Homo sapiens: one gene and its partners. The protein of the gene in region 4 purifies or fractionates together with the protein of the main gene of each other region. This does not show direct contact. Each region holds a gene or a part of one and is shown on either strand. Other genes may lie near its edges.

Region 1 (6,701 bases), on a different chromosome or scaffold from region 4:
AGTAAAGTGGTTTGATAAATTACAATGGAAAGAAACACATGAAAGTCTCTCTCTAGGGCTTATGATGATTTTATAGGAGGTACAGTGAGCAGAAAAACTCTCCCTCTGTGAGCTGGGCACGCGGCCCTGATCCTAGCATTGCTGCTGCTTAACCATGTGGTCACGGACGACTGACTTCATTCTCCTGGCTTTAGTTCACAGTTCTGTTCAATGAGGAGGTGGCAAGACCTTCCTGTCCCAACCCTTATTTCCTCTTTGTCTCTAAAGTGGACTCCCATTAAGGAAGAGAGCTGATGGAAACCTCCTTAGGAACTGGGAATTTGAGTTGCAATATTTCATTGATTTTTGTTGTTGTTGTTTCAAATTAAGAGTCCATTCACTTTCAGCTTTCCACAAGAGAAATTAATATGGCCATGCTTGCCTATCCAAACTCCATAAGGAAGCAGCTGCTTTCCCATTTCTCCTAGCCATATGCCTTCAGAATTAAACACAGACAAAACTGGGATTTTAGTTAGTCTTTAATATAACTCCAACTTTTTAATGGTAAACAAAGATGTAAGTACAAAACATCAAAATACGTTATCAGTAGTTCTAAACAGCCATAGTAGTCACAGTGCCAGAAGTGAGGTCACTCACATTTTAAGGAAATATAATTCACTCTATTTCAGTGGAATCCATGTTCTGGCAGTTGGAAGGCAAAGGTGAGGCTTACTTTGTGCAAAATGTATTCACTTTATTCGAAAGCAGCTTTCTTTTCTGTCCCTTGCTTGGCATTTTAAAGAACCTGTTCATTTTCCTTTTTTGTTAAAAGTGCTCTAAGAACTAAAAGGGCCGTTCCTTACTGGAATAAAATTAACTACACATGCCATACATTTCTGGGTCAATGTTGCTGGTTAAATTCCCTCAGAATTAGCAATTCATAGAAAATTAATTGTTAAGTTATCGCACTTTCATGCCAAAAGTACAATTTAGAGTTCACAATACAAGGCTCTGTGGTATAAAGTGCCTATGAGCAGCTTCCCATCATACACTGAGGCTACAGAACTTCCTTGGAGAACAGACCCATTGTTGGCATAAACTGTAGTCACTGTAGGCTTCTCAGATAGAATGTTCTGGATGCGGAGAACCTATTCAGGGGATACAAAGTATGAATATAAGACCACCGTACATGCATGTCACTCAATCATCAATAAGCCCTGTTTTCCACAATGACACACTGATTAAGGGGACATGCTGTTGAAAATAGCAGTTACCAATCTTTTTAATGTTTAAATTAAAGTACTTTCTCCAATCTTCAAAGAAAGTACTTTCTTAAAACCATCTAGTTATTCCATGCCAACACAGGATTTAGTGTTATTATAGCAATTCAGCTTTAATAGAAATACTTTCATACTAATGTGCCTACTTTCACACTACTTCAACATGAACAAATATCACATCATGTGGTGAGCTGACAATAAATCAGATATTTTAAAAATTGCCAGTATACCACCCAAGAAGGGCACATGTCTTTATAAAAATGCCTTTTGACTAGTTTCCACCATAATTTAATACATCAAAAGATTACCTTTCTTAAAGTATTTGAACAATGTAACATTCTGCCAATTATTGGCTTAACGCAATTACAAAACCACGACATAAGCTTATTATATTATTGCTTTAAAATAACTAAACAAATCATCCCTGTGACAATTTATTGTATTATTAGTTCAAAAGGACTTGAATAATTAAGTTTAAAAAACTGAAAATATAAAAACCTCTGACGAGGGAGGATTGTTCGGGTCATACACGAAGAGCTTCTGGCCATTAGGATGACAGCCTACCCAGATGTCCCCCGAGGAAGGATCAATAGATAAATTATCCACCAGTGTATCCAGCTCAAGTACCTTCCAAATGAGAAATTGTCAAAATCTAAATGACATGAGAAACTTGATTAAATAATTTAGAGGTAACCTTCCTGCCTCTATGCATGTGAGGAAATTACACATCGCCCTGCTTCCACCTTCTAACACCAATATTGCTTAAAAGGAATGTATTAAAAACTGGTTTGGAGCCACTTTTCTTCTTCCCTGAAATTAAGAAAGTTAGGGTGATAATCGGTCTCTGTAAAAATCTATCTTAAAAACTGAACTCCTTTTCCTTTAAAAGATGCACAATGATCAGTTAGCTCAAGGAACTCAATCAAAGCAAGATAGGAAATTCTTAATCAACCTAAAATATGTGTTGTTGAGTAGGAAGAAAATAATAATGGTGTGGAACCCAATTTCTACCTTCATGTATTATTGAAAGAACTGACACTGTGCATAAACCTTCATTTGAGAATTCATCTATTAGTATTTTCAATTGTGAAAATTCTTATTGGAATTCTTCCACTGCCATCAATACTTCATGGAATGGGCCCTAAATCTGATGAATATCACTCTCAACCTGCTGCTGCATGTAATCATGGTCAGTTCTTGAGATCGCTGGAAACAGGAGCTTTCTCTAGTTGTAGGGAGTATTTAAAAACCCAGAATAGCTACACTGGCATCCATATTTTGTTCTACGTGTGGTACTCTTATAGAAAAACTATGTCATTGCAAAGCATAATAGATTACTGTCTATATGTAAAAATAAATATTTTACCTTCAACTGAGTTAAATTCATATTAGTGTGTTTTTCCAAAACATGAATTTCATGAGCCAATATGTCAGCAACATAGATATACCTTTGCAGAAAGGACACAGTGGTTAGAGCTCCATGCCAATATAAAGCTTCATTAATACAGTGTGAAAGAATAAGTCTTAATAACCTGCCAAGAAGTTAATCAATCATGGGCCCTCAAGGAATGCTTGATAAAGGTCAATTTTTATTTAAAAAGTAAGCTTTCAGAATCAATTCAGTGGTGCTACAACAATCATGGAATTATTAAATTGTTTTTCAAAAAGCTTGTAAGGAAAAATAATATAGAACATCATTTTGAATATGAAGTCCATATTTGCCACTGAAATGACAATAAAACAAATGCTTGGCTTCAGAAGAAAAGCTTTTACATTCCACAATATAATTTGATACTTCTAATTATCATGTACATATAGAAATATATGGTAAAGAACATCTTATTAAAATAGTGATCATTCCTTAATATTCAATAAAATATTTATTAATACATAGCGAATTTTAAGAGTAAGAGATAAGTATCAATGCAGAATAATCTGTCTACTTCAAAGGTGAGTGAATTAACAGACTATTTTGAGGTAATTTTACTCATTGAATTGACTTTCCATGGCACCTGCTCTGTTGAGCAATTATGTGTGAAAAGCCATGAACTCAGTGTTGCAGCAGATATAAACATGAAGAAGACACAGCCTCTCTCCTTGAAAGTTTATAGTGTGTTGGAACAAATCTCACTGGTTTGTACACATTAAACACCTAATAAGCATGAGAAATAGTTCAGGTCTAGAAATAGCTAACTTCCGAGGACACAGAAAGGCTCACCAAGGAAGGGGCATCTGCAGTGGCTGTGTAAAGAGAGATGAGATTTGAGATGAGGACGGAGGAGGCACTTCCCAGGCAGAAGCAAGCACAAGAGCAGAATCACAGGAGCAAGAAGAGGAAGGAATGTTTAAAACAATGAGTTCTTTGTCTAAAGCATAGAAAGCATGGAAATAGTAGAAAAGGGAGGTTGGAGGTGGCCTGTTAAACAAAGTCCAACCCTTTACCCTGCCTTGATTTGATAAGCAATTGGATTCCACTGAAATCTTAGAATAATAAAGTGGCAACAAATGGTCAGTTCTGTTCCACAATTCCTGAGCATTTGCTTTGTGCCTGGCACTGTACTGGCATAAGGAGTCAAAGGTGAGGAAGACAGAGTTCCCTCTTTGGGGAGCCCTTCAAGGCTAATAGAGATAGACAGACAAAATTGGCAAGAGTGAAAAAAATCCAAGTAGACAGAAAACAAATTGGAAGAAAGTCTCATATGCTAGTCAGAGAGGATGACAACCTAAATTAGGCAGGTCTCACTCAAAGGGAAAGGAGTTTGGGGGTAGAGGAAGGAGGCACAGGTAGAACCAACAGGACCTGCCTACAGGCTGGATAGGAATGGTGAAAGAGGAGTAAAAGCTGATTCTCCCTTTTCATTATTGTTATTTTTTTGTTAGCTTGGGTGATTGGAAAGTTTGACTCTCATAATGGAAATATAAGAGTGAAAAACAGATTTGGCTGCAGAGGTTGGATCAGGTCAGTTAGAGACAATTTAAATTAAATGATTCTACATTCTTTTTCTATAGTCAACAAGAAAGGAGGAGAAATTGGATTACAAAAATAAGGGCATTTAGTTGTCAAGGAGTGCCAAATTTATTTTATGTTGTATTTGTAGTAGTTTAAATTTTTCAGTGTGCTGAGGCAGTAGATAAGAAAGCTATCAAGAATTTAATATCTTCTCTTATAGGTTGTGGTTGTGCATATAAAAATAATGAGATAATTCTGGAGGACAATTTGGCAATATCTATTAAAGTTAACATTTAAAAGAATCACACTGTTTGAGCAAATAGTTCTATTTCTAGGGGTCTGTTCTACAGAAAAGTAGCTCATAGAACCATTTAGCCAGTGCCCTGGGTGGGATTTGAACCCAGGCCTGTATGAGTCCAAAATCTGCAAGTTTAACCATTATGTTATAATACTCTCTTAGAGCCAGGTGTGGTGGCATATGCCTGTAATCCCAGCACTTCGGGAGGCTGAGGTGGGCGGATCACCTGAGGTTGGAGGTTCAAGACTAGCCTGACCAACATGGAGAAACCTCATCTCTACTAAAAATACAAAATTAGCCAAGCATGGTGGCGCATGCCTATAATCCCAGCTACTTGGGAGGCTGAGGCAGGAGAATCACTTGAACCCAGGAGGCGGAGGTTGAGGTGAGCTGAGATCATGCCATTGCACTCCAGCCTGGGCGACGGAGTGAGACTCCATCTCCAAAAAACAAAACAAAAAAAAAACACTCTCCTAGGGACTTTTTCTTTAAAAAAAATACTTGTTTAAAATTCCATGGTAAATAAGAAGTATAAAATATTTTTTATGTAGAACTCCCCACCCCTATACACATATCCATCAATAGAGAATTGGTTAAATTAGTTTAAGATCATCCTTATAATGGAATAATGTATAGCCAATAAAAATAATACATTTATTTAAAAGGAAATACCTGATACTTCAATATGTATGCATCAGTATGATCACACTTTAAAATTTATATTTATAAAATTAAATTTGACAATGATGTATTCCAAACTTTATATATTATATATAAATACATATATATTACTGTATTATATAGTTTACTTAAATATGGTATTGTATTTGCATATAAATACATGTGACTAAGTATATGTAAATATATATACAAAACATATATAATTATATATATAGTGTATCTATATATTATATGTATAATATACCATAAATGTCAAGAAAACTATTTTCACATTGACAAAGAAAGCAAAGTAAAGAATTTGGCCAGCACCACAACTGAAGAAAAATGAAGATATTCTATAAGGGGCCATACTTATCATCAGGTGAAATATTGATCCCATTTGCTGAATCAAATCCTTCTGCTACCACTTTAACTTCATTTGGACTGTAGTAAACAACATTTGCCCAGTGTAAGTTCAAGTATGTTTCTAAATACTTTAAGAAAGGATCAGAGAAGTAGTGGTCATTTGTGGCATAGAAATGTGCCGGTCCAACAGCTGTGATGTCATTCACACTGAAAAAGAAAAATAGCATGTGAGAGGAAACAAAAGGCCTGTTGGTCTCCATATTAAATATTAAGTACTCATAAGATTTATGCAACATGTGCTTTAAATTTTTGGTAAGAGGAAAAGACGAGCTAAAAATCACGACTATAGTCATATACAATATACTATAATATTGTTGCCAGAGAACAATTTTGTATGGTACCAGGTAATCTGAACACAGGTCATTTAGCAATTATGGCAGGATTACCATAAGAGAAGAAAGAACTTAGTGCCATCAGGGCATGTTTTTTGACAGCAAGAAATGTAGGGTTTAACAATTATACGTAAGGACAGAGCTGTCCACAGTACAGAGCTGGAGAGAGCCTGATTGGCTGGTGAGCTGGTTAGGCAGTCAGTAACATTTACCTAGCTTCCATTTACTCAGTTCCTGGATTTTTCTAATTTCCCTGGCTTAGTTATTAGTCAAACTAAGGTTGACTGTTCAATTTCTACCTGCTTCACAAAGCTGACATGCCGAGAATGAACAGGCACTCAATAAACACTTGCAGAGAGATGGATGATAAAATTGCCATAGTACAATGCTTCAGGTGAGAGATTTATATGCTAAAAACAATTTCATTTTAAGACCAGTTAGGTGAGGGTGTTATTAAATTTAAATTCCAATTACTCTATGCAAAAATTTCTGAAAGAGCTGCTTTATTCTTTGCTAAATGAAAAATATAGAGCTACAGGGAAGGTAGGTCTCATTTTTCTGAAAGAGCACCATAATGCTTGGATGGTATTTATGCTCCTATTTTTTTTTATCAAGTGCATTTTTGGAAGGAATGATTGGAAGTTACATGCTTATGCCCTAGATAGGCATAGATAGGCCCTAGATAGGCAATATTTTTAATTTCATTAGAAATGAAATTTCATTAGAAATTAAAAATATTCATCAAGTTTAAACTAAAAGAAGCAGTAGGCTAATAC
Region 2 (4,144 bases), on a different chromosome or scaffold from region 4:
CAGGACAAAGCTGCAAGACTTGGTATAACATTTTGAAGCCATCAAAAGACTAAAAATTCTCCTGTAAATGACTTCAAGAAGAACATACTCTCAAACTGCATTTCCTAGATGTCATTCTCAGTCACGAGGGTAACATGAATTCCACAACAGTGAGGCTGTGACGACGACAGCCACTATCTGCTATTTCAGTGAGACGCTTCAATTAGAACACTTTCAAACAGAAGATAAAATTCGGCTCAGATTCAAGTCTGAATTTACCCAAATCACTTCTTTCTACCTCTTAATTTATCTACAAATTGAACCTAGAAAGCAAAACCTGAAAATAGCTTTTTGTATATGCCACTCACTGCCAGAAAACACTACCTTTCCTGAAAATTGAGAAAATACTGCAGCTGTTATTTCAGATTGTGCTGGAGAGGGGATACTCTCGACTTTTATGTGCAGCCAACCCAGGGGAGGGGGAGGCAAGGAAGAGTGAAGGCTAAGCAGAGGCACTGGAGGGTCCAAAGACAGGCAACCAGCGCCTTCATGTTCTGATCAGGCCTTTCAGGGTGCACTCTCCCCAGGTCCTGTCAATGCAACAACCAAAGCAAAATGCCAGAGCCGTGTCGGCCCCTTAAAGAGAGAACACACACATCTGCTTACAAACTAGATAGAAACCTTTATTTCACAACTTTATCATCATTCACATTCTAAAAAGACACGGACTGGGGGACACAGCTGAAAACAGTGGGAGGCCAGATGCTGGCATCTTCCAGACGGGAGCATAGCCATGGTCACTCTAGCCGATGTCTCCTGGGGCTCTCAGGCGGCAAGGACCAGATGCACCACTACTGTCCAATCCCAGTTTTACTTAGAGCCACCTCCTTTTTTGGGGCCATTAGTCCTTATTTCATGCCAGATTTTCACTAGCGGCTCCCTGTTCTTCCAAATCAGTTCATGACCGTAAGTAACATACCATCTGGAGAAAAACAAACCAGGTCCGACATTCAAACAGTGTGACATACAAATGGTAAGTAGCATGGTGACAGATCCCAAGTTGACATTTTTAAAATCGAATGCCACTCACTATGTAGCCGATTAAAACTGACTCACATCGAGAAATGGTTTAGCTTTCATATTACAATATGTAAAAGGTAGAAGTAGGATGGGACGATGGCTGAATGCTCCGCAGTGTGTGAGTACTTCACATATACTACTTTTGATTCACCACTATCTGCAAGTTAAGTATCAGTTTTCCCATCGCAGACATGAAGCAACCAGGTCTGAAAGAAAGTAGTTTGTCCAAGGTGCTAATAGTTTCTAAGTGGTCAATGAAAGCTCACTCGCAGGTCAGACTGACTCGATGTTCTGAAGTGTCAGAATTAGCACTGACTCAGGATGGCTATCCCAGCTTCCATGCCTCCCGTCATCTTCCTCCTAACTATACGAAGGGTGGCCCGCTCATCCAAACTCTGCCCCGCTTTAAGATACCTAGTTCCCATCCCCACTCTCCTGTTCACACAGCCTAACTGCGGCCTGAAGCAACGAGCCTGGGAGGCTGACGCACAGAGAGGTTTAGTAACTTCGCCTGCTCAGGTTCCACAACTAGGAATCAGCAGACTGAGACTAGAACCCGAGTCTGCTGCTGAAGCCTGTGCTGCAGGCACTGGACTTTCCTGCAGCGTGTAGGGAGCATCTTCTGTGAGCTGGGGAGCACACTGCGCTCTGGGAAGGGCCTGCCTTGGAGAAGCTCCTGAGGGCACTGGGGGTAGAGAAAGGCTTCCTGGAGGATGTGGGGTGGATTTCCAGGGGCAGTTAGTGAGAGCTTGCTATTAAAACCTTTATTTTTGCTCTGGCTTCCCCAAACAGATTTCATGTTCCCTGAGGCAGAGACCAGATTTTGTTATCTTGCATCGAGCTCCCAGACACCTGACTGAAAAAATGCTATTTGACTTGGAGTGGGTGAGAAGAGCAGTTTAATGTTTTAATATTTTAAAAATGTTCTGAATGTGTATGTTTAATTATAAAGGGCTTGATTTGTACCTGAATCTTAATATTCACTAAATATAGTTAAAATCTGATTATACACATTAATTAACAGGCATGTAATAAAAATTCTCTGTGCTTAAGTCTCTGGTGAATTTAGAATGAGAGAAAAAGGAGCACCCTAATATTCAAATGCAATTATAAAAATTCTCCCCAAAAAAATCACTTTGTCAGGAACTCTTCATTAATAAAGTGTTTTCCCAAATCTTTTTTGTTGTTAGACAGAGTCGCGCTCTGTTGCCCAGGCTGGAGTGCAGTGGCGTGATCTCAGCTCACTGTAACCTCTGCCTCCTGGCTTCAAGTGATTCTCCTGCCTCAGCCTCCAAGTAGCTGGTATTACAGGCATGCACCACCACGCCCGGCTAATTTTTGTATTTTTAGTAGAGACGAGGTTTCCCCATATTGGTCAGGCTGGTCTCGAACTCCTGACCTCAAGTGATCTACTTGCCTCAGCCTCCCAAAGTGCTGGGATTACAGGCGTGAGCCACTGCGCCCGGCCACCCAAATCTTTTTAACCTACTTATTTCAAGCAAAGAGTCAAATACTTTAATTTCACAGGTATACTGTCTGATTATACTCATAAATCCAAAAGGAATTTTTCATTTGGCTAAACTAAAATCGGGAAATGCAAGATGACCGATTTCTAGGGCACTCTTTTCTGTAGCGGCAGCGCAAGCCAGCCCTCATCTGAAACTCCAGCTCTGCAATTGTTACTTGTGTGACCTGGATAAGTTACTTTCTTTAAGCAGTTTCTTTTTCTGTAAAATAAAATACCTCACAGGATTTTAAGAGAATTAAATCCTTAGCTTAGGCACACAGCAAATATTCAGCGTATTAATATGTTAGCTATTATTATTGCAACAGTACAATGTGAATACTGTAAGGTTTGGTCAGAGGCAAAGTCAGGGAAATGTATAAGTGGATACTAATGGAGTCTTTACCACCAACAAAATCAGGGCACTTCAACGAAAAAAAAATAAATAAAAGATTTTAGATTTCTAAATCTAGATTAAAGCTTTTAGAAAAGATGAATTCTGGACATGACTGAAATCTAGTAAATGAAAAGGAGTTTAAATTAGAAACAGTAAAGAGAAAGGATTCCTCCACCTTTCAGACCCTGGACTTTAAAATGCATTTGATCCAATTATTTTCAGAATGGAAAAAGGCCACCTAATTATAGTTCAGATGAATAAAAATCTACTGGGGAGAAGAGCCTTGAAGTATACATGGAAGATAAATTTAGAGCTCACAAAACAGAACCCCTTCATGTTTCTCATACTGTAATATCAGGTCAGTTTCTACTATTTATACTGCACTGCTGTTAGAGCTAGACCTTGCATATACTACATACTACTCCTCTTTAATCACTTAAAATTATAAATGGCATAATGGCATTTAGTTCTGCCACCTACTGGGAAAAACTGCTTCACTTAGAATAGATTTTTCTTTTTTTTTTTTTTGAGACAGAGTCTCACTTTGTCGCCCAGGCTGGAGTGCAGTGGCGTGATCTCGGCTCACTGCAAGCTCTGCCTTCTGGGTTCACACCATTCTCCTGCCTCAGCCTCCCGAGTAGCTGGGACTACAGGCGCCCGCCACCACGCCCGGCTAAGTTTTTTGTATTTTTAGTAGAGACGGGGTTTCACTGTGTTAGCCAGGATGGTCTCGATCTCCTGACCTTGTGATCCGCCTGCCTTGGCCTCCCAAAGTGCTGGGATTACAGGCGTGAGCCACTGCACCTGGCCAGAATAGATTTTTCTTTTTAATAAAAAAAAAAATTAAGTTTTCCATTGTCGCGGAACAAAATAAAAACCAAGTAAGGGCAAAAGGCAACATTTATGTAAGAAAAGACAGGCCCCGAGGGGATCCAGCTCATGCTGACGGGTCTCCCACGATCAGATGGACGCCAAGAGTCCTGACCGTGTTTCCGTGATACAGTTACTACTAAGCACTAGTCTAGGCAAAACCCCATTGTTTGAAGCACACGTGGAAGGTCTTGTAACCACAATGCCATTTGCTGTGACCCAAGGAAGCAGTTTAGCAACCAATTCCATATGGTGTGGTGGGGGTGGAAAGGGCTTATAGAGGTGGGTTTACAGCTCTGCTCTGCTATTGAAGA
Region 3 (7,929 bases), on a different chromosome or scaffold from region 4:
TAAACACAGAACTTTCATATAAAGGAGGCTTAGGCCAGGCGCAGTGGCTCACGCCTGTAATCCCAGCACTTTGGGAGGCCGAGATGGGTGGATCCCCTGAGGTCAGGAGTTCAAGACCAGCTTGGCCAAAACAGTGAAACCACATCTCTACTAAAAATCCTTAAAAAATTAGCTGGTGTGGTGGTAGGCGCCTGTAATCCCAGCTACTCGGGAGGCTGAGGCAGAGAATTGCTTGAACCTGGGAGGCAGAGGTTGCAGTGAGCCGAGACTGCACCACTGCACTCCAGCCTGGGCAACAGAGCGAGACTCCGTCAGGAGGCTTTCTTTCAGAACAACTAACCGAAAAATCATGCAAATTTAGAGTGAAAAAATGTAAAATAAGAAATTTAAAGCATTACAAGATTAATTTTAATGTAACTGGTCAGTTTGCACATCTGTAAAATGACAGTTTGAAACTAAGTGATTTCTAACATCCGGTCTACTTCAAAGTCTAAAATTCTATGATACGCAAATTTCTTAAACTTTGAGTTAAATATACTAGGTTGTTTAAAAACTAAATCTAAGCTTATTCTGATAATTCAAATAACCCTGAAATGTTAGAATATCAATATCCCATAAACGATTCAGCAGTACTGTTTTCAGACTTCCAGTTAGTATGTGTCCAGAACAAATAAAGAGCAAAAATAGCTATTTTCTCTTACTTTGACTGCTAATACTAATAGCATACAAAATAGCTACTCACTGAGAAGGCATCATAAAAGGCTCTATTGTTACAGAATCCTAAAAGTCTCACGAAAATAAGAGAAACATCATCAGCTAACATCACCAGGCCAAACACAGCTCATTGAAAATCTTAAATTCTGAAATATTTAGATTAAATGAAAACTTCGAGATATTTATCTGTTACGCAAAACAGGTAGCACTGCTTCACAATCTGAACATCACCGTATAGCTCCTTTGGTTAAACAGAAAAAAACTTCCCATGGTACTCTTTCCTCCTAATTCTGCCATTCTTACTATGCACAATGCGTATTTTCCATGTACTGTAAGAGAGATGCACTACACAGAAGTATCCATGGGGACGAAATTTTATCTACACTGAAATTTAATGTGGGATAAGTAAGCTTATCATAATGGAGTTTTACACAGAATGTGTATTTCTCAATGTAAAATGATTTTGTGAAGTAAAGGGGGAAAAAATAGAGGAAGTTTGTTTCCTTAGAATCTCCACAATTACGCACTTTATTCTTAAAATAAGGGACTGGTCTGCAGGATTAACAAATCTTACAGTTCAAAGACAGATAAACATTGGAAGGCCAAAAGAAGTAAGCAAAATAAAAACGATTACCATTAAAAACTCTTCCCTTGGCAGTTTTCAGAGAGGGTTAAAAAAAAAAAAAATTTTCCTGATTGTCAGGCTGACCCTGCTGTCATATTTGCCATTTTTATAAACCCACTAGTTTGATCAAGAGCCCTATCTTTAAGAATAACTTTTAAACCATGCATTTTTAGAGTTAATGAGGCAATAACACTATAGTATTACAGTTGTAGCTCAACAACTGTTAGATACTACAGATTAGTGATCCAGAAGATAATCAAACTTTATCAGCAAAGTAGCAACCACACCCCTTAAAAACAGAACTCACCCTGTGCTCCATTAACTTCCATAAAGGGAACTTCGATGAAAATCGATTACTTCATTGCTTGGAACTAGCATGTTTGTTTTGGAATTACACTAACGTTTTGTAAACACTGTCTCACGGTAAAGCTAATGACTTTACCTCTTTCTGAAACAGTTTTAGGGAAGAAGGCACCATATATTACGGTGAAACTGGGTCTTAGTTTACATAGCGATTATTTAAAAAATTCACTTCCACTGTGCATTACAAGAATTAAAGCCGTTTAAAAAACTCAACCAAAGCCCAATGACAATGTATTACTCTAGGAAAAGTGTGTCCTTTGGGTTCTAAGGCATTAAATTGGAATTTAATATTAAAATAGAATTCAACGGCTAAGTATCCAGTTTCCCCCAATCACTTAATTTTTCAAAACCCAGAAAGGGCCTGTTTGCGAGTATTGTGAAAACCTGTGGAAAGAGAGGCTTTGGAGGGGAACGGTCGAATTAAAATAAATGCAGAGAGCAAAGAGAACTCCGAGTTCTTTGAACTCCCCCAGGCTGAACAGGACGAGAAGGAACCCTACCTGCCAGCGGCCATAGGTGAGGAGGACCATAGAAATGGGGATGGCGGTGCCGGACATGGCATGGGTGGAGGGCATGCTGTACTCAGAGTTGTAGAAGACCTCCAACTTGACCACGGGCGGCGAGGCGGGCCTCGGCCAGCGGATGATGTCCTTGGTGCACTGGCCCAGGTACATGACCAGCACCCAGATGACCACGAGCCTCCGGCCCACCAGAGGGTCCAGGTTCCAGATCCAGAAGGGGAAGAACAGGATGTAGAAGAGTTCGTTGCCCAGCTCCGTGCCGAAGCAGAACAGGCAGTAGAGCGGCCAGTTGCTCACGCGGGCCAGCTGGCCCTCCTCGCCCGTCAGCGAGTTGCGGCGCAGAGCGCCCGCGCGCCGCGGCGAGGCCGGGCCCAGCTCGGCCGCCAGCCCGTTCCGCACGCCGTTGGGGGCGCCGCCGCCGTCCGGCTTGGCCGGGCACTGATTGCGGTCGCTCCCGGGAGGCTGGGGGCCTCCAGGCGCCCCTGGCTGCCGCCCTCGCAGTCGAGGGTCTCCGGCGAGAGGCGCCTCCGCTTTCTCATCCTCCCTCCGGTCTGCTGAGCGGCGCGGCGGCGCTTCCACCCCGCACAGCCGCTGGAAACGGGCCACTTTCTGCGGGTCCTGCAGACGGCCAACCAGCTGGGCCAGGCGCTGCCTCAGCGACATGATAACGGAACCCCCGGGAAGGCGGGCCGGCCTCCGGCGCAGCCCCGAACTGTCCCCGCGCTCCTGGCCAGCGGCAGCGGAACCGGCACAGCGCTCTACCCTCCGGAGTCTGCCGGGTGACGGCGCCACAGGCCGCGCGCCCCCGCCCCGCGCGCGCCGCGCCCCGCCCCGCCCAGCCCCGCCCCCACCCGGGCTCCCTGAGGGGCCGGGCCGCGCGGGTCCGCCCTGAGCGCATCCGGCCGTGGCTTGGCGCTGAGGATCGGCGGGCGGCCGCTTTGAGGTCCCGGGTAATATCCACCAGCAGGCGTCGCGGCGTACGTCTGGTGGGACGCGGCGTGTCCCCCTGCTCCACCTTCAGCCCTTCTTCTCCGCGGGCTAGTGTCGCCGGATTCCCTCAGCCAGAAGTTGACTTAAAGAGGCCACGATCCCGGTGCCAGCTTGCGCAATGCCTGTGACCAAGCAGCCGGGCATCCTGCTGGCACAGAACCAAATGGTGAATGATCAATGAAGGCGAAGCAACTACCATGAGTTCGGAATCATTCGACTCAAGTAATTAACAAGTAATTACAGAGCTGTCCCAGGCGACTGATGTTCGGAAAACCATGTGCCAATTGACCAGTGGTGACAAGACTACATGTAGATCCCAAGACAGGGCCAGGTGATATTAACAGGTGTGGTCTGCAAAAGAAAAGCCAGCCACCTACAAATTCAAAATACTGTGTCATTTATCAAATATTTTGGTATATGTTAAGGGAGCACAGGTGTTCTTAAGTGTAAAATTTCCTTTTCCTAGATTCTAATACCTAGAGGGCTTGCACAGAATAAATGTAGAGAATGAATGCAGTGTATAGATTTTTGAGTTTGGTAACGTTAATTTAGACGCTTAACTTCCGTGTCTCACAAGTTACCAACTTGACTTCTAGCTAGAGCAGTTTATAAGGTCTCTGAACTCCTCAGGTCAGGTGAATGTCTTTTATATATACCTAGAGAGAGAGAGATGAGACAGGGTCTCGCTATATTGCCCAGGCTGGTCTCCAACTCCTGGGCTGAAGTGATTCTCCTGCCTTGGCCTCTCAAAGTGCTGTGTTTACAGGCGTGAGCCACCACACCCGCCATGATCAGGTGAATGTCTGTAATTAAAGAATGTGAACTACTTCCAAGAAACAGGCTTGAAATTGTCCCATGCCCTTAAAACAGTAGAAATACTTTCCTTCAGGCGTGGTAGTTCATGCCTATAATCTCAGCACTTTGGGAGGTCGAGGAGGGAGGATGGCTTGAGTCCAGGAGTTTGACAACAGCCTGGGCAACATAGGGAGATCCCACCTCTACAAAAAATGAACAAAATTAGCCGGGCAGGGCTGGGCACAGTGGCTCACGCCTGTAACCCCAACACTTTGGGAGGCCAAGGCGGGCGGATCACCTGAGGTCGGGAGTTCAAGACCGGCCTGACCCACATGGAGAAACCCCGTCTCCACTAAAAATACAAAATTAGCCGGGCGGGGTGGTGCATGCCTGTAATCCCAGCTACTCGGAGGCTGAGGCAGGAGAATTGCTTGAACCAGGGAGGCAGAGGTTGCGGTGAGCCGAGATCGCGCCATTGCACTCCAGCCTGGGCAACAAGAGTGAAACTCTGTCTCAAAAAAAAAAAAAGAAAATTAACCGGGCATGGTGGCCCACACCTGTAGTCCCAGATAACTGGGGGACTGAGGCGGGAGGATTATTTAAGCCCGGGAGGTCAAGGCTGCGGTGAGCCCTGATTGTGCCATTGCAATTCCAGCCTGGGTAACAGAGTAAGACCCTATCTTAAAAAAAAAAAAAAAAAAAAAATTTCATTTCGCAGGGACAGGTACTCTCCTCCTCCCACTCCACTTGCTAGGCTGTGGCCATAGAAAGAGGAATAAATCATCACCCATGCTCTCAAGTTGTTCACAGTTTAGGGGAGATAAAGAAAGACAGGACTACTTCTAGAGTATAGAGAAGATGGCAAGTGTAAAACAGACATAAACAGCATGCCTCAGAAAGGAGGACAAGTTTGACTAGGAACAGGAAGAAAGGTGTTAGGAGGTGATCCTGTAGAGCTGGATTGTTTTACAGAGCAAAATATGAATAGGTGAAGAAGCCCATTTTAGGAAGAGAAAGTGAAGGAAGATAGGGATATGCAAAAATGTATTTGGTAAACAATAGTCCATAGAGACCAGGTGCAGTGGCTCACTCCTTTGATCCCAGCACTTTGGGAAGCTGAGGTGGGAGGATCACTTGAGGTCAGTAGTTTGACACCAGCCTAGGCAACATGGCAAGACCCTGACTCTACAAAAATATTTTCTAAAAAATTAGGTGGGGGGCTGGTGCAGTGGCTCATGCCTGTAATCCCAGCACTTTGGGAGGCCAAGGCTGGTGGATCACTTGAGGTCAGGAGTTTGAGACCAGCCTGGCCAACATGGTGAAACCCCATCTCTACTGAAAATACAAAAATTAGCCAGGCATGGTGGCAGGTGCCTGTAATCCCAGCTACACGGGAGGCTGAGGCAGGAGAATGGCTTGAACCTGGGAGGTGGCAGTTGCAGTGAGCCAACATTGTGCCTCTGCACTCCAGCCTGGGCAATAGAGCTAGACTCAGACTAAAAATAAAGAAAAATAAAAAAATTAGCTGAGTGTGATGGCACATGCCTGTAGCCCTAGCTACTTTTAAGGCTGAGGTGGGAGGATTGCTTGAGCCCAGGAGTTAGAGGTTACGGGGTGCTACGATTGTACCACTGCACTCCAGCCTGAGCAGCAGAGTAAGACCTTGTCTCAAACAGTAAAAATTAAAAAATGAAAAAAAAAACCAAAAAACAATAGCATATAGCATAGAGTAGCAAGGGTGATTGGAAATGGGATTACAAAGGGAGGATAGGATTAGGTTGTAAATCCTTGAATACCAAAGGGATTTAATTTTGTAGGCAGTGGGAGCCATGGAAGGCTTTTAGGCTAGGGAGTGACACCATCAGAACTGTGTTTTAGAAAGATAACTGGGAAAGAAATCAAAGACGATTGTCAGAGGTCAGAGAGTGAAGGCTAGGTAAATAATTAGAAGATTATTGCAGTCATCAGGTGAGAAACAATGACAGCCTGAACTAGGACCTTGGTTCTGGGGGATTGGAAGCGGGGGATAGATTTGAATGAAATTTTGGAACTAGGAAAAAATTAAAATGTTTCATTTGAATTCATAGGACTGCAGGCAAATATTAGTCTGTTCCTGGTTAGAACAAACTTGTGTCTAATTTCTTTTTTTTTTTTTCTTTTTTGAGACGGAGCCTTGCTCTGTCACCAGGCTGGAGCATGGTGGTGTGATCTCAGCTCACTGCAACCTCTGCCTCCTGGGTTCAAGCGATTCTCCTGCCTCAGCCTCCTGAGTAGCTGGGACTACAGATGCCTGCCACCACACCCAGCTAATTTTTTGTATTTTTAGTACAGACAGGGTTTCACTGTGTTAGCCAGGATGGTCTCAATCTCTTGACCTCGTGATCCGCCTGCCTTGGCCTCCCAAAGTGCTGGGATTACAGGCATGAGCCACCGAGCCTGGCCAACCCTTGTATCTAATATTGAAGCATTAGCAATGTAGTGAAGGAGAGAAAACATGAGAAAAAGATACAAATATATTCAAAGAAGGTGTAAAGCCAGGTATACTAAACAGCTCTGGAAAAATGAGACATAAAGTAATCACTCTGTGGAGTAAGCAGAGAGGTGGCATTGGATTCTCTATGAATGGTTCTGTGAAACAGATGATTCGTTGGCATTTGAAGACAAGGAGCATCTTGGTTTATAGAGAGAAGGGGAGAACAGCATCAGGCTGAGGGATTGTGTATGTGCTTTTCTGTCAAAATAATTTGATTACAAGGGAATTATTCAGATTCATCTGAGGAATTTCCTGGTCTAGGGTCTGTTTATCCCAGAGATGGCAGAGGAAGAGGAAAGTATGTAAAACAAAGTAGAGGTGATCATTAGATCCCATGGCTGCATTATGAGTCCTTTAGCGCTGGTATATTTTGTCAGAATGCAATATCCCCTTTAACAGTAATGGGAACAAAGGTGATGGAGAAATGGAAATTTGACCTATAACTGCACTAAACAGGAAAAATAATACAAGCTGACAAAACTTGAAGGAGCTGACACTGGTGCAATAAATCATTGTTAATGAGAGGGACAAGGTCTTACCTACATACCAAAGAGCCATGGTATAAAGAATAGTAGTTTTGGTGGTTTCTACCCACATTCCCTCTGAAATTTTCCTAATAGAATATCTTAAAATTTAATAGAAATTTAACTATAGGCCAGGCACAGTGGGTCATGCCTGTAATCCCAAAATTTTGGGAGGCCAAGGCAGGAGGATTGCTTGAGGCCAGGAGGTCAAGACCAGCCTGGGCAATGTGGTGAGACCCTGCCTCTAAGAAAAAGAAAAAAGTAAAAAGAAAACAAAAAAATTTAACTATATTAAAAGATTCAAATATAAACATTCTATGGCAAGTATTTTTATCACAAAGCATACAATTTTAATTTTTTAAATTTTTGTTTATTTTCTGCATTCTCTCAGAATGTGAATAAACATTTTTTTGAAGAAAAAATATTGCTGCCAAGTAGGGATATACTACCTGGGTATGATTCAGTGTCTTTCCTGCAAAGCCAAATAAAGATATCGTGTGATATGAGAACTGTATCATATCCATGCTTCATAATTAACATGTTGATTTTCTTATATCCTTCTCTGTACTTGACTTTATTTTTATTTTTATTTTTATTTGAGATGGAGTCTTGCTCTTTCGCCCAGGCTGGAGTGCAGTGGCGTGATCTCGGCTCACTGCAACCTCTACCTCCTGGGTTCAAGCAATTCTCCTGCCTCAGCCTCCCGAGTAGCTGGGATTACAGGCATGTGCCACCACGCCTGGCTAATTTTTGTATTTTTAGCAGAGACGGGGTTTCACCATGTTGGCCAGGCTGGTCTTGAACTCCTGACCTCATGATCCACCCACCTTGGCCTCCCAAAGTACTGGGATTTTAGGTGTGAGC
Region 4 (7,034 bases):
TCATGCCTGTACCAAGGCTCAAACCGGGGATTGTGAACAAATTTATCCTTAAATGCAGAAATAAGTCTTTCGAAGGGATCTCTTACAATAAAAAACTTGAAGTATGTTTTCAATCTAAGGAAAAAAACGAACAAGAGGTTAACTTGATGCCACAGGAGGTCACAGCTGAGGGGGCGGGAGAGGGAAGAATGAGCGGAGTGCAGCACTGTGTATGGGACCCTCACGTGCCGAGGCTGCCATGAATGCATTCCACACGTCTCTTAATCTACTCCAAGATCCTGTGGATTAATCCTGTTATTACCACACTTTGCAGGTGAGAAAACAGAGGCTTGGAAAACCTTACCTGTCCAAGGCCACAGTACTCATTGTAGGCAGTCACTGTGAAGACATCTATTTAATCTACCTTCTGTTTTACTTGAATGATTCAAAACTTCAAGAATGTTTACAAATTTTGTTCCTGGGCAGAAAATCATAAGGGCAGGAACTCTGAGTCAGGAATAGATGGTGCCAGGGAAAGTTACTTTAAGGGCATATTTTTAAAAGTTCAATTCAAATTGCCAGGGGAAGGGGGGCAAGAGAAAACAGAGAGTCAGGCTTCACGCTCCAGAGGGCAGGAGCAGGTCTGGGTGAGCTGCAAGCGGGCGGCAGCAGAGCATGGCCCTGGGGAGGAGGGCCGGCAGCAGTGACGATGACAAAGACGATGACAACAGTGACATCACAGAACACGGTGTGATTACGACAGGCCAGAAACTGCTCTCTGTGCTTTGCCGTGTCTTCACTCACTGAGTCTCACAAAAGCCCCATGAGTGCTCAGGGCAACAGCAGGACACTCCTCACCAGGAGCATCTCTGGTAAGGGTTGTAAGGATGGGCAGGTGCCATGCAGGTCAGGCGCCATGCAAGGCAGGTGGCTGCAGACCCAGGAGGCAAAATCCAGCTGGTGACCTGACGTGAGCCGCTGCTTTTGCATCCTCACTCCTTTTCAGCCTTGCTCTCCTGGGCCACCTGAGAGCTACTACATGAGAACTTTCTCATCTATTAGCTAAGGACTCCATCTTCTTTTTTTTTTTTTTTGAGACAGAGTCTTGCTCTGTCGCCCCAGCTAGAGTACGGTGGCCAGATCTTGGCTCACTGCAACCCTTGCCTCCAGGGTTCAAGCGATTCTCCTGCTTCAGCCTCCTGAGTAGCTAGGACTACACGTGTGTGCCACCACAGCGGGCTATTTTTTTTTTTTTAGTAGAAACGGGGTTTCTGTCAGTCACACTTGTCTTGAACTCCTGACTTCAAATGATCCGCCCACCTCGGCCTCCCAAAGTGCTGGTATTACAGGCATGAGCCACTGCGCCCAGCCTGGACTCCGTCCTTGCTGCGATCAGGGGTTCCGTCTCTCTACCCTGCCCATGCTGGATGCAGCCCACACAACCACTGCAGGGGCAGCTCCCACAGCAGTGGGCACAATGCCTCTGGGAGAATCAAATACTCAGTGAGATCTCTGCAATCCAAATCCCTTTCTTATAAAGAAAAGATCATATTCAGCAAGCAATCTATAAAACTTTACCAAAGCAGAACAAAGTTGCCTGCTAATTTCTATTAACAAAATGATGTCACCTTCATGTTAATGGACTGTGTGAAGGTAAGGCTGGAAATTCTCAGAAGGAACTGAGAGTTTTGAGGCGCCGAATGGGGGGTGTAGCTTAGCTGCCTCTCACTGATGCAAACCGACAGCCCTCTGTGGTCCTCCGATCAATCTGCCAAGTACAGAACTCAGCCTGGGGTTTTCCCCAAATTTCTTCTCAGGTTTACAAAAACTCCCCCCTCCCCTTTGAGGAAGCTGTTCTCACCGCTTCTGAATTTCTGCATCACTGAAGGAAGAGAGCCGAGGAAGGCCGTTCTTCTCGTGGTCGTGCACCACGTTTTCGGGGATCTCCTCAATGGAAGAAAATGCTCCTGGGAAGTAAACGGAAAGGAAGGCAGGTTGGCTGCTCCAGTACGCCCCTTAGAGAAGGGCATGTCCTTACCTCATCTTTACCTTGGGCCTCATGTTCCCCACGTGTGCATGACAAGCCCACCCCCAATATCCAAGTTTAGGTCTTTGAATTTCAACTGCTTCTGCCAGCAGGATGAACGAGTGAAGAAAAGCTTCTGGGAATCCATAAGCCAACTAGAGGAAACTGATGATTTCAGGGAGGAGGGGGAGGGAGCAGGAGTGGAAATGCTGGCAGTGCCTACCCCTGGCAATGGACCTAACTGGGCTAAATCTGCCATTAGAGGAAGATCGCTGCATGCAAACAGAACTCCTAACACCAGCAACACTTACTCTACTCTGAGACTGGGGGAAAATGCCAGAGAAGCAGGACTTTGGAACGTCATGCTAACAGATGCCCGCAGCAGCTTCACAGCCCCATCCCATAGACAGGCTAAGCTCTCCAAGCACCACATGCCCCTGGCCCACAGTGGCTCTCAGGTACCCCAGCAGCATCCCAGGCTGGCAAAGAGCAAAGACCTTTTGATGCTGGAAAAATCTGACTAAGCTATGGGAGCTGTGATACATTTGAGACAGGAGTCAAAAGAGGACAAGGTATGTCGAGAAGGCAGGGCCGTGCCAACAGCCAGGGTCTGTCATCAGGGACCAGTGCAGGTCCAGGCTGCTGAATGGAACTTGGGCAGAGACCATCCTAGGGTTGGTGGCTGAGCAGGTTTTTCACTCTTTTCTCAATACAGACAAATGGAAATACACTGTCAGTATGCTGAGGTTTTCTCCAAGTTTCTGTAAGCCTTAATATCCATCTTTGTGTTAATCCGGTAGGGTTAAGATTGGAGTCCTGGCAGGGAAGAATCTCCCTGGGCCATCTGACCAGTGGACACAGTCTTGTCTGTTTTATTGATTCCTCCCCCGAGTGTTTAAAGCCCAGTCCAGAACTCTGCGGTACATGCTATGGATGGCTGTAAACTAGGCGTGGGGAGCACTGCTCTCAAGGGGACAATGACAGAACCAGCTCTGTGGGTCCACATATGGGCCCATTCATGCACCTGTCCCCATCCAGGTGCACTAGTGGTTACCGAAGATAGCCACAAGGACCACCCGCTTCTGTATTACATGATCCAGCAAGCCCACTCTGATTTCTATGCTGCCCTTCTAAGTGGGTGTTTACTTCTTAAAGTATGCTGCTTCACACTGTGGTGGCTGATTTGTGAGCCTTTGTATATTCCTTGTTTTCAATTCGATTTGCAGCCTCATTCTGCTTCTGAAAACCCAACATGCTATCCAATCACTGCAGAAGCACATTAATTATATGTGACAACCAGATGATGAGGTGCCACCATTCTCTCTCCCAGCCAACCCCTGCGAAGGCCAAACAGTGGCCAGGAGTGACCACCGACTCTGTGGGCAGCATCAGGAGTGGCAAGCAGGACATGGAGCCTTAGGGCCACCTACCCATGGTGCCCCAAAATCCGATTTCTGACCCAGGAGTCCCACTGCTGTTGACTGGAACTAACTCCTGTCTGAAGCTAAATTTCATAAGCAGAGCCCATAATTATTAGGATCGGTTCAGACTAATTGGAATTTAAATAAATAGACATCTCTAAAAAGAGTAGTGAGTAATCAAAACTGCAGTGTATGAGGTTACTTTGTGATGATCTAATTTGTTCCCTAGCAAACATCAGGTTTCCTGAAGCAAGCTGACTCAATCCTCTGAACACAGATGCTTAGTGTGAAATGGGGTACAATTTCTTCCTGCTCGCTGGCACAGAACGCTTGGTCTGCAGGTAAAGAGGCTCCAGGCCCCGGGCCAGGGCTCCCCTCCCAGGCTCTACAGTGTGAGCCCTTCTCACTGCAGAGAGGGTGACCGTGAGGCTTCCTGGTGGCTCTGCGAGTGTGGGGCCCTGGGGATGTCGGACAGAGTGGGTGACTATAACCATCAGCACAGGGAACCTGAAGAGACAAAGGAGGGGGGCCTGGGGGTGGGCGAGCCACCTAAAGTGAGGATCTGCTGTGACAGGTGAGGAGAGCTGGACTGTGGCTGTGCCCCTTTGAAAAGAATCGGTGTCTAAACGAGCCCCACTAACTTGTAAGGCACAACACTAACAGGAAACAACAAAAACAGGCCTGTCTGGACGGCCACCAGTCCCTTCAGGTCAAACCAGCCCTCTTGTGACTCCTCCTTGCTGTCCTCCCCAGCCTCCTCAGCACCGGCCACCAAGACCCTTCCCAGTGGACATTCAGTAGACCCACACACACCATTTAGAACAATCAGCACTTTCTTCCACTGGGTGTTGCCCACTTTGGGAGTCTGGCAGAAAAGAATCTTGTGCTTGTCACAGACAAATATTCGGTCCAGGACAAACTTGGAGACAGGAGTGTGCGAGAGATTCTTCAGGGCATCATCCCTGCAGACGTTTCTGATGAGTTCCAGGCGCTCCATGTAGACCAGGGGCTGAACGAGCTGGCTGTCTGGAAGCTCCTTCCCAGTTGGCTGCAGGTGACACAGAGCAGAAGAGGCCCAGGGACCATTAAAGGAGGCAGGACCGGGCCAAGCAGAGCCGCTCCTGCTGGTCTATCCCCTCCTTTCCATCTGGAGCCTTCTCTTCTTCCCTTCCTTGTCTGTCTACAGAGTGACACCCACTATCCCCAGCCCCTTCATGAGGCCTTCAGAGCCTCTCCACCAGCCCGATCGGCAGGCTGGGCAAGGAAAATGAATGCAAGCTTGGTTCCTCAGATCTTTGGAGAGAAGTTTGACTTTAAAAAACAAAATAAGGCCGGGCACAGTGGCTCATGTCTGTAATCCCAGCACTTTGGGAGGCCAAGGTGGGCAGATCCCAAGGTCAGGAGTTCGAGATCAGCCTGGCCAAGATAGTAAAACCCCATCTCTACTAAAAATACAAAAATTAGCTGGGTGTGGTGGTGCACACCTGTAATCCCAGCTACTTAGGAGGCTCAGGCAGGAGAATCACCTGAACCCAGGAGGTGGAGGTTGCAGTGAGCCTAAGATCGCACTACTGCACTCCAGCCTGGGCGACAGAGCAAGCAAGACTCCGTCTTGGGGGAAAAAAGAAATTAAAAACCAAAGTAAGAAGTTTGGAATCCTCTAGCTAGGGGGAAAAAGATGAAAAAGCTCAAATTCTACATGCTGGTCCATTCTTTTCAGGGCTGTTTTAGAACCTAAGAGAATACCTGTAATGTGAGAGGCCTTGTGTGTGCATGGGTTGGAGGGGGCACAGGGAGATGTGCCAGTACACACAGAAGTTGCTCAGAGGCCCCCTGTCCTCGGTGAGTTAAAGTCCCCTTGCTGCTCACACCTCCTTGTTCTCTGGAGGCATCCTGAGGGCATTCCTGAATAGCAGGGCAGCCTCCACCAACCCCATCGGCCCCCTCTAGTTGTGGCCCTGTTTCTCAGCATTTTTAAGGCTTCAGCTGCTACATCTCTCTCTCTCTCTTTTTTTTTTTTTTTTTATGAGACGGAGTCTCGTTCTGTGGCCCAGGCTGGAGTGCAGTGGCACGATCTCAGCTCACTGCAAGCTCCGCCTCCCGGGTTCCCGCCATTCTCCTGCCTCAGCCTCTCGAGTAGCTGGGACTATAGGTGCCCACCACCATGCCTGGCTAATTTTTTGTTGTATTTTTAGTAGAGACGGGGTTTCACTGTGTTAGCCAGGATGGTCTTGATCTCCTGACCTTGTGATCCGCCACCTCGGCCTCCCAAAGTGCTGGGATTACAGGCGTAAGCCACCACGCCCGGCCATATCTATCTCTTAAAGCTACACAGAACTTCCCAAAATTTCAAAGCAGATGATCCTTCCAAATAATTGTATTGAATGGACCCAAATATCCTTGTTATATCTTTTAAAATGCACTGGGCTTGCCAGGAAATCCATTTATAGGGTAGTTTTAACAACCTGTCCTCCCAGGGGACAACGTCAGTTAGAAAATGGGAAGGACATAAGACTTCTAGAACACACTAGAACCGGGACGCTGGAACTATCAGGATGACAGAGGTCCCCCCTCAGGGCCCCCCACCCAGCTCTTCCTTTATGGATCTACTGTAACCAAACTCTCTTACACTCATGACCTCTGGCCAGGATGCTTTCTCCCTTGTGTGTTTAAGTGAATTTCCTGGGATTCCCTGGTGGTGGGAAGAGCATCCTGGGGGCTACTGACTGCCTGCTTTTCGAGATGAAGACACTGGGGAAGCGAGAGGCCCCTTTGCAGAGTGGCCTCCGTTCCTCCCCACAGGGCATCAGCGGCTGCCCGGGCCCTCCACCCACCATGGAAAACCAGGAGCCACGCCAGGCACTCTCCTTGCTCTTACAAGAACGGGTCTCGTTTAACCTCATTTCCTCATCCATCCCACCTCTTGCTCACTTATCCCAAAAGAGCCTCTCTGTCTTCTCCTCCCTCTCTGTTCCAAACCTAACCCTGATCATGGATGGCACTCAAGAACAGCGCATCAGGAGAGAGCACCTCCCAACAAGTTCCCTTTAGAAAATGCAGAAAACTCTGCACTTTTAGATACTGCTTTTCTTTGAACAAAGAAAAGATATTAGATATTGCTTTTCTTTTAGCAAAGCATTAGAGACAAAAATTCTTCTTCTAAGAGACGAGGTCTTGTTCTGTCACCCAGGCTGGAGTGCAGTGGCACAATCATGACTCACTATAGCCTCCAACTCCTGGGCTCAAGTGATTCTCCCACCTCAGCCTCCCAAGTAGCTGGGGTTATAAACACACACCACCATAACCACCTGATTTTTGTATTTTGTGTAGAGATGAGGTCTCAGTATATTGCCCAGGCTGGTCTCAAACTCCTAGGCGCAATCGATTCTCCTGCCTTAGCCTCCCAAAGTGCTGGGATTATAGGCGTAAGCCACCATGCCCAGCTAAAGAAAAAAGATTTCTTGTTCAATTGTGTGTAAGAATGAGCATTGTTTTCTTTTTTCCCTTTGGAAATATACAAAGCCAACTTAAAGACAAATATTATTTTCTATTTTCCATTCAAACATTCGGCTACACCATGCACAAAGTAAACTTTTTTTCTGAGACCG

What was found.
Region 1: the proteins of CHST10 (region 4) and PON2 purify together in Homo sapiens (affinity purification with mass spectrometry; 3 studies listed by BioGRID and IntAct, with this or other methods). This does not show direct contact.
Region 2: the proteins of CHST10 (region 4) and PARL purify together in Homo sapiens (affinity purification with mass spectrometry; 3 studies listed by BioGRID and IntAct, with this or other methods). This does not show direct contact.
Region 3: the proteins of CHST10 (region 4) and SGPP1 purify together in Homo sapiens (affinity purification with mass spectrometry; 2 studies listed by BioGRID and IntAct, with this or other methods). This does not show direct contact.

The regions. Positions count from the first base shown.
Region 1 is NC_000007.14:95,404,362-95,411,062, forward strand, and holds the end of PON2 (serum paraoxonase/arylesterase 2), read right to left. Parts: intron 5,741-6,701; coding exon 5,540-5,740; intron 2,708-5,539; coding exon 2,626-2,707; intron 1,887-2,625; coding exon 1,758-1,886; intron 1,128-1,757; coding exon 969-1,127; 3' UTR 501-968; downstream 1-500. UniProt on the Homo sapiens protein: Capable of hydrolyzing lactones and a number of aromatic carboxylic acid esters. Has antioxidant activity. Is not associated with high density lipoprotein.
Region 2 is NC_000003.12:183,828,749-183,832,892, forward strand, and holds the end of PARL (presenilin-associated rhomboid-like protein, mitochondrial isoform 1 precursor), read right to left. Parts: intron 962-4,144; coding exon 850-961; 3' UTR 523-849; downstream 1-522. UniProt on the Homo sapiens protein: Required for the control of apoptosis during postnatal growth. Essential for proteolytic processing of an antiapoptotic form of OPA1 which prevents the release of mitochondrial cytochrome c in response to intrinsic apoptotic signals.
Region 3 is NC_000014.9:63,725,059-63,732,987, forward strand, and holds the start of SGPP1 (sphingosine-1-phosphate phosphatase 1), read right to left. Parts: upstream 3,008-7,929; 5' UTR 2,887-3,007; coding exon 2,203-2,886; intron 1-2,202.
Region 4 is NC_000002.12:100,393,669-100,400,702, forward strand, and holds part of CHST10 (carbohydrate sulfotransferase 10), read right to left. Parts: intron 4,475-7,034; coding exon 4,240-4,474; intron 1,947-4,239; coding exon 1,841-1,946; intron 115-1,840; coding exon 1-114. UniProt on the Homo sapiens protein: Catalyzes the transfer of sulfate from 3'-phosphoadenylyl sulfate (PAPS) to position 3 of terminal glucuronic acid of both protein- and lipid-linked oligosaccharides.